2 linked regions of the Homo sapiens genome follow. The protein of the gene in region 1 interacts with the protein of each later gene in a biochemical or structural test. Each region holds a gene or a part of one and is shown in the gene's direction. Other genes may lie near its edges.

Region 1 (4,645 bases):
TGCCATGTGATTTATTTCTTGAGTGAGAAGAGCCAAGGGATTGTTTCTGACAGTCTTCCATGCTCTGGCAGGGCAGCTGGGCAGAAAGATGTTTCTTGATTTGTTTGGTTTGTCCTGTGATGAAAGAGGCCTGGTAGCTCAGCGTGCAGAGGCCAAAGGCCAGAGTTGAGCTCCCAAGTTGGGCCCTGCACCCAGGGGGAGCTGGAGTTAAATGAAGGAAACTTGAGAAAAACGACTCCTGGCAGAGGCACAGGGCCTATTAATAGGCTGGACAGCAGTGGAGAGGGACTGGACGCTGGAAGCACGATGGGGAAGGCTGGGTTTATTTCTGGGTCAGAATGTTGAGGGGCCTCACTGGAGGGAGTGATACGAATTCCCTCAATTTAGCCTACCAGCTCTTGTGCCCAAGCCCTCATAAGTGGCTTAAACAGAACGCCTGAACACACATGTCATAAATCAGCCACACGTGGAACATATCTAGCTGAGGCCTTCAAGTCCTCCCTTGCTTTTTCCATGCCTAGAACAGGATTCTCAGCCCAGAGAACCAGAGGAAATGGAAAAGGGGAGGGTGTCAAGTGAGAGAGGAATGCTACAGAGCTTTCAGAGGGGCTTTAAAGAGTTTTCTACTAGAGGAGAAGGATGGAGGATGGGCAGGGATCGTGGTCAGGGATTGACAGGCTGAGGGTATGAGGAATGGGGTTTGGCTTATGCAGGTGGGCCATTGCCAAGAGAGGCCAAAGCACTAACTCCATCTCCTTCTTGTTCTGTCTTGAACTAGCTGCCACCCGGGTTACCATGGAGAGAGGTGTCATGGGCTGAGCCTCCCAGTGGAAAATCGCTTATATACCTATGACCACACAACCATCCTGGCCGTGGTGGCTGTGGTGCTGTCATCTGTCTGTCTGCTGGTCATCGTGGGGCTTCTCATGTTTAGGTGAGTGTTGGGGTCCCCTGCAGGCTGTTTCTGCAAATCACTCCCTTTCTTCCTCCTCCTGGGCCCTCTCCTTGATGGTCACATGCACTTCCCTCAATCTTTCCAAATCATGGGCTAGCTCCGGGGTGTAGATTCTCCAAAAACCTGGTATTTCTGGCATGACATGAGTCCTGTGTCTAGAGCCCAGGGTCAAATTTGCGAGGCCATAGCAGGTTCTGCTCCTCACAGGAGTTCTTTTCCTGCCTCCATGACCCAGCTACCCACTCATGGAGTCACTTTGTCACACATTTCTTTCTCCTGGCTGTTCTTTGATGGCATTAGTATGTGGTTTGGTAGTCAAGGTGTGGGTGGTGCTAGTGGTATATCCTTCCACTTCTGAGGCGTCTGGACCTCAGGCCCTGCTTTCTAATCCAGGTATGCTCTAGCTTGGGAGACCCACCAAGCACTCTATGCCTGTTTTCTTTCTTTCTTTTTTTTTTTTTTTTTTTGAGACAGAGTCTTGCTCTGTCGCCCAGGCTGGAGTGCAGTGGTGTGATCTCGGCTCACTGCAAACTCCGCCTCCTGGGTTCACGCCATTCTCCTGCCTCAGCCTCCTGAGTAGCTGGGACTACAGGCACCCGCCACCACACCCAGCTAATTTTTTCTATTTTTTAGTAGAGACGGGGTTTCACCATGTTAGCCAGGATGGTCTCGATCTCCTGACCTCGTGATCTGCCCGCCTCGGCCTCCCAAAGTGCTGGGATTACAGGCATGAGCCACCGTGCCTAGCTCTATGCCTGTTTTCAAGCAGTGTAACTCATCTGTCATGAGACCTGGAACAAGTTACTGTCTTTCTGAGGATTGTAACCTTGTAGTGATTGTAATGTTTGTCCATCTACCTCATAAGGATGTTGTGAGGATCACGTAAATGAGGTGAAAGCTATTTGTAAATTGCATCCTGCTATTAGAGACAGGAGTTCCTCGGGGCAGTTGGGCCTTTGACCAGAGTTTGGGCTGCCCTACTGCCTGGGCTTTTCCAAGTAGTAGAGGAAACCACCATGGCAGAGTTCTTTGGAAGGACCTGCTCTGGACCTGCACTTTGTCATAGCAGGCAGGGCTTATTCACAAAACTTATCTTCCTCAGGTACCATAGGAGAGGAGGTTATGATGTGGAAAATGAAGAGAAAGTGAAGTTGGGCATGACTAATTCCCACTGAGAGAGACTTGTGCTCAAGGTAACGCTCCATCCTTTGCCCCATGACATGATTATCCTTTGTCCCCTTTCCTGGCTGTGCTTCAGTGGGTGCTGAATTCTTCATATAGGGGTTGGGGGCCAGGCTACTGTGACATTAATATCCCATTGCAGAATTATTTTCAAAAAGACTCAGTGCTTCACTTAAGGTAAAAGTTGCTAGAGAGACACCTAAGAGAGATGCCTGAGAGGACAGCTTCTCCCACCCTCATCCCCTCCCTTCCCCTCCCCTCTCCTCCCCTGGGAGACAGAGTGAAACCCTGTCTCAAAAAGTTTAAAAATAAAAAAGACTGGACCAGGAAAATCTTAAGACTTCTTTAGACTGGACCTGGCTTTACATGCCTTCCTTTTGTGCTTTAGGAATCGGCTGGGGACTGCTACCTCTGAGAAGACACAAGGTGATTTCAGACTGCAGAGGGGAAAGACTTCCATCTAGTCACAAAGACTCCTTCGTCCCCAGTTGCCGTCTAGGATTGGGCCTCCCATAATTGCTTTGCCAAAATACCAGAGCCTTCAAGTGCCAAACAGAGTATGTCCGATGGTATCTGGGTAAGAAGAAAGCAAAAGCAAGGGACCTTCATGCCCTTCTGATTCCCCTCCACCAAACCCCACTTCCCCTCATAAGTTTGTTTAAACACTTATCTTCTGGATTAGAATGCCGGTTAAATTCCATATGCTCCAGGATCTTTGACTGAAAAAAAAAAAGAAGAAGAAGAAGGAGAGCAAGAAGGAAAGATTTGTGAACTGGAAGAAAGCAACAAAGATTGAGAAGCCATGTACTCAAGTACCACCAAGGGATCTGCCATTGGGACCCTCCAGTGCTGGATTTGATGAGTTAACTGTGAAATACCACAAGCCTGAGAACTGAATTTTGGGACTTCTACCCAGATGGAAAAATAACAACTATTTTTGTTGTTGTTGTTTGTAAATGCCTCTTAAATTATATATTTATTTTATTCTATGTATGTTAATTTATTTAGTTTTTAACAATCTAACAATAATATTTCAAGTGCCTAGACTGTTACTTTGGCAATTTCCTGGCCCTCCACTCCTCATCCCCACAATCTGGCTTAGTGCCACCCACCTTTGCCACAAAGCTAGGATGGTTCTGTGACCCATCTGTAGTAATTTATTGTCTGTCTACATTTCTGCAGATCTTCCGTGGTCAGAGTGCCACTGCGGGAGCTCTGTATGGTCAGGATGTAGGGGTTAACTTGGTCAGAGCCACTCTATGAGTTGGACTTCAGTCTTGCCTAGGCGATTTTGTCTACCATTTGTGTTTTGAAAGCCCAAGGTGCTGATGTCAAAGTGTAACAGATATCAGTGTCTCCCCGTGTCCTCTCCCTGCCAAGTCTCAGAAGAGGTTGGGCTTCCATGCCTGTAGCTTTCCTGGTCCCTCACCCCCATGGCCCCAGGCCCACAGCGTGGGAACTCACTTTCCCTTGTGTCAAGACATTTCTCTAACTCCTGCCATTCTTCTGGTGCTACTCCATGCAGGGGTCAGTGCAGCAGAGGACAGTCTGGAGAAGGTATTAGCAAAGCAAAAGGCTGAGAAGGAACAGGGAACATTGGAGCTGACTGTTCTTGGTAACTGATTACCTGCCAATTGCTACCGAGAAGGTTGGAGGTGGGGAAGGCTTTGTATAATCCCACCCACCTCACCAAAACGATGAAGTTATGCTGTCATGGTCCTTTCTGGAAGTTTCTGGTGCCATTTCTGAACTGTTACAACTTGTATTTCCAAACCTGGTTCATATTTATACTTTGCAATCCAAATAAAGATAACCCTTATTCCATAGCCTTTTGTCTGTTTGTTTTAACCGGGAACTGGTTTAACTTAGTTATTTCCTAAGCCCTGACTTGGTGGTAGGCTCTATACCAGGCCTATTTATGTATACTACCACAACAATTCTGCGATGCAGGTACTATTACTGTCCCATTTTTCCAGAAGGGGAAACTGAGGCTCAAAGTGGTTGTGTAACTTGCCTGAGGATACACAGCTAGTAAATGACAGAGCTGGGACTAGTAGTCTGGCTCCAATTATTTTGTCTTAGTACTTATACCATGCTATCTCTGAGATAAGAAAGAACAGATCTTTCGCACAGCATGTTTAGCTGGCTGTAATCAGGGAAGATATCCACCCATTCAGTCAACAGGCCCTGGACTCAGGATCTACTCCTATGCTGCACATATGAGCAGGCATTGCTTCTGGCAAGAACAAGATGTCTTTGACTACCCTATCTTGCTCCACAGCCAATCCATCAGCAAATCTTGTCAGCCCTACCTTTAGAATACATGCTGTATGCAACCACTTCTCATCACTGCCACTACCATCACCCAGTCCAATTTCGCATCATCTCATGCCTGCACTTTTGTGATGGCCTCTGCCTTTCTAGTTCCATCTTGCTTCCATATAACATATTTCCAGTGTAATAGCCAGAGTGATCATGTCTTTCAGATCTTGTCTGCTCTGCAGGCCT
Region 2 (3,500 bases), on another chromosome or scaffold:
GAAGATGAAAGAGACAGACACCTCAGTTTTTCTGGATCAGGCATTGATGATGATGAAGATTTTATCTCCAGCACCAGTAAGAATAATCAATTACAGTACAGCCATTTATGCAAGGCTTATTGATTAATCTGAGTGATACCAAATTGTATCTCTCTTGAGAAGTAGTTAATGTGAAAAATGGGTGAACCTATGATCATACCTTAGTTATATCTTGATGAGATTATGGAAGAAGAAATAGAATGTTTTGAGAAGTGGGGAAAATATCTCACAAAATTTCTCTTGTCTCATGTTCTTCCTGTTTTATTTATCTATGGGATCTACTGCTACAGATTGTCTTTGAATGATCAGGCTTTATCAGAGAATGACATTAAAACAGTACAAAAAATGTACATTGTGTACTTACTGTGCTAGGTGCTGGAAACACGAAGATGAAAAGAGCCAGAGCCTTTGCTTTTCAGAAGCTCATGGTCTGTTGGAGCAATAGACTTGAAGAATGTGATGAGGAGGGTATTAATTAAAAGTTGTAGGCCAGGCGTGGTGGCTCACACCTGTAATCCCAGCACCCTGGGAGGCCGAGGCGGGCAGATGACGAGGTCAGGAGATCGAGACCATCCTGGCTAACACAGTGAAACCCCATCTCTACTAAAAAATACAAAAAATTAACCAGGCGTAGTGGCGGGTGCCTGTAGTCCTAGCTATTCGGGAGGCTGAGGCAGGAGAATGGTGTGAACCCAGGAGGAGATCGCGCCACTGCACTCCAGCACTCTAACCTGGGTGACAGAGCCAGACTCCATCTCAAAAAAAAAAAAAAAAAGTTGTGGAAGTTCCTAAATTGAAGGCCCTAAAGGCTTAAATGATGGGAGCTAGAACTCAAGAATTATCTTAGTTAATCAAAGCCCAGCTGAGGTCAAAGGAACAAATCCAGAGTTTTAACAAATGAGCTGGACACCAATATAGCAGAAAGACCTTGAAGGGAAGGGCAAATGTCAGGTTAGCTTTAGCAAGACATTGCCACTTATTAAAAGCAAATAATGAAACCACTATTGGTACATAATAGTATCCAAATTTTTGACAATTATAAAACTTTTTGAGAACAAAGAGATGGAAATTGAGCTTTAAAGATATCCTTAAAAAGTTAAAAACATGCAAAGGTTGGTCTAATATTCTGCCAGATTACTGAGTTTTCCACACATACCTGTAATGACTTAAGATTTTGCTGAACAGAGCTGAGAATCCTGAACCTGACTCCATCACAGTTCTGCTTTTCCTTAGAAAAAAGGCTTTTGGGGTGCTGTGTGAGCTCTCCCAATTCACTGAAGTTCTATCCATTCCATTAAAATCTGAGAATTTCATCCTCAAATGGACAGAGAAGAAAGGGTCCAGAAAAAAAAATAGCTTAGGCCTTGAAGGCATCTGAGTATATAACATTGATATGACAAATACTCAAAAGGAACTAGAATTTTCTATCTAAACTTTTAAGTGATTTTTTTTTTAGACCCGACACCCCTCCAGAGCTTAATCTATGGAATAAGAAAATTCCTTTTGGTAACTTCAGAACAAAAACCAAATAATCAAAAACACTGGAGTTTTACATTATACTGTCTCCTGTGTTCAGCATGTGGCCCAGCTTTGCAGATGGGCCCATCAGTAAATACGTGGTCTTGATACTGAAGAAATTAAATTCCCTTGGGTGGTAACCCAAACAGATCTACCTGTAAATGAATTGTATGGTCAGGCTTCAGGGAAAAATTTCCCATGGTGTTGTTTTTTTTTTTTTTTTTTTTTTTTTTTAATTTTTTAAATCTCTATGGCATATTTTTCCAATTTCTGCTTTTCTTTTTTTTTCTTTTCTGCTTAGCACCTATGGACATAATTCAACATGATGCCCTCTTTCTTCTGGAGGGGTGTGATAACTGCTTGATAATAAGCACTTTTTCAGGCCTATTGAGAATGTGGTTAATGATTCTAAACTTGATTTTTCATAACTTGTAAAATAGAGCTGACAGTATTATAGTTCTGAAAACAGTTTTGCGTTATTTGGGTATCAAAATAAAGTTTGAAACAATTAGGATGGATTTGCAAATAACCTTTCACAAAACATGTTGACTCAGATTTTGTCATGATCCTTCTGTTAGGTGCATCTCTTATTCCAGCCCTAACAGATTGGGTGACAATATCAGGGTGCTGGTGGATGTACGCCTCTTTCTTTCCAGTGTGCTGCTATGATGGTGGCTGGTTACCTGTGGTGTCTTATTTTCTTTCACTGGCTATGAATGGCTTGCTCATGACATATTTTGTATTTGATGAGAATACCATAGTGTTTGATAAATATTCAGAAATGTATCGCTAAAACATATGGCTATTCTAGGTATTCTTTTTCAGAATCATCTATAGGAAAGCTCTAGCTGCTCAGGCATTCCTTTCCCCACTGAAATTACTAACAACATAAAGTGATTATCATGGTATAACTTTCAGTTATCTGCCTCTTCACCCGGAGGATCTACAAACAGCACACAGTGACTAAGTCCCTGGGCTTTCAAGTGCAGAGGGATACTACAGACTGCATGGATGGGCAAAATGGCGCCTTTGGTTATCCTCGGTGGAGGGCTGGTGTTTTCAAAGCTGTCCTTCCTACTGCTGCAGCTTCTTTGACTGTTTTATCTGGAAGATCTCATGTTCTGAACCCCAAGGTATTCTATGACAGAATGCAAAGGACACTGAGATGCTTACCAATATGGCTGAATTAAGCTGAAGTCACCCTCCGCTTTCCCTCCATTTCCATGCAGCCATCTATACAACCTGGTATAGATGATTCATTGCATAGCCTACAGAAGCAAGACTATGTGCGGGACAAGTGGCGAAGGCTCAAGAAATAACATTTTTCTAATTGCTTCAATCATCGTTATCACAGTTTCAACCACACCACGGGCTTTTGACCACACAAAACAGAACCAGGACTGGACCCAGTGGAACCCAAGCCATTCAAATCCGGAAGTGCTACTTCAGACAACCACAAGGATGACTGGTAATGGGTTCTGCATATTTAATGAAAGATTTTTTTCCCCTCAAAGCCCATGATGCTGCAAAGGTCAATCATCGAGGCACAGTGGGAAATTTAGTTAATATCTGATCAAGAAATTCTTAGTGGACTTTTATGAGGATACTTAATTCCATTTAGGAGTCATTTATCAATTATACCATGTGGGCACAGGATTTTTTATGTTGCTTCATGATAAAAATGAATATGTTTGAATGGTTTGTGGTTCTGCCTTTGACAAACTGATCATAGTGGAATAATAAGGGAACATGAAGAAATTCCAAGCCCATTGATTTTCTCTTGAGACCAATTAGGTAAAGTCACTCAAAATTTTTGAGAGTGGATGCTCAGAGGTAACACTTTGGCATAGAATTGTTAAATAGCATGCACTTTAATGGAAGAATAGAATCATTAAAGATTGGTTGATAACAAGTCACAGTGTATTTAACCATCATCACAGCAG

The links. Proteins that work in one complex are often made in the same cells at the same time.
Region 2: the proteins of HBEGF (region 1) and CD44 form a complex in vitro, tested with the Homo sapiens proteins (one study listed by BioGRID).

Annotation. Positions count from the first base shown.
Region 1 is NC_000005.10:140,332,161-140,336,805, reverse strand, and holds the end of HBEGF (proheparin-binding EGF-like growth factor precursor), read left to right. Parts: intron 1-778; coding exon 779-934; intron 935-2,057; coding exon 2,058-2,130; 3' UTR 2,131-2,148; intron 2,149-2,525; 3' UTR 2,526-3,963; downstream 3,964-4,645. UniProt on the Homo sapiens protein: Growth factor that mediates its effects via EGFR, ERBB2 and ERBB4. Required for normal cardiac valve formation and normal heart function. Promotes smooth muscle cell proliferation. May be involved in macrophage-mediated cellular proliferation.
Region 2 is NC_000011.10:35,198,171-35,201,670, forward strand, and holds part of CD44 (CD44 antigen isoform 1 precursor), read left to right. Parts: coding exon 1-76; intron 77-2,475; coding exon of another isoform or gene 2,476-2,747; exon of another isoform or gene 2,748-2,911; coding exon 2,912-3,025; exon of another isoform or gene 3,026-3,497; coding exon of another isoform or gene 3,498-3,500. UniProt on the Homo sapiens protein: Cell-surface receptor that plays a role in cell-cell interactions, cell adhesion and migration, helping them to sense and respond to changes in the tissue microenvironment.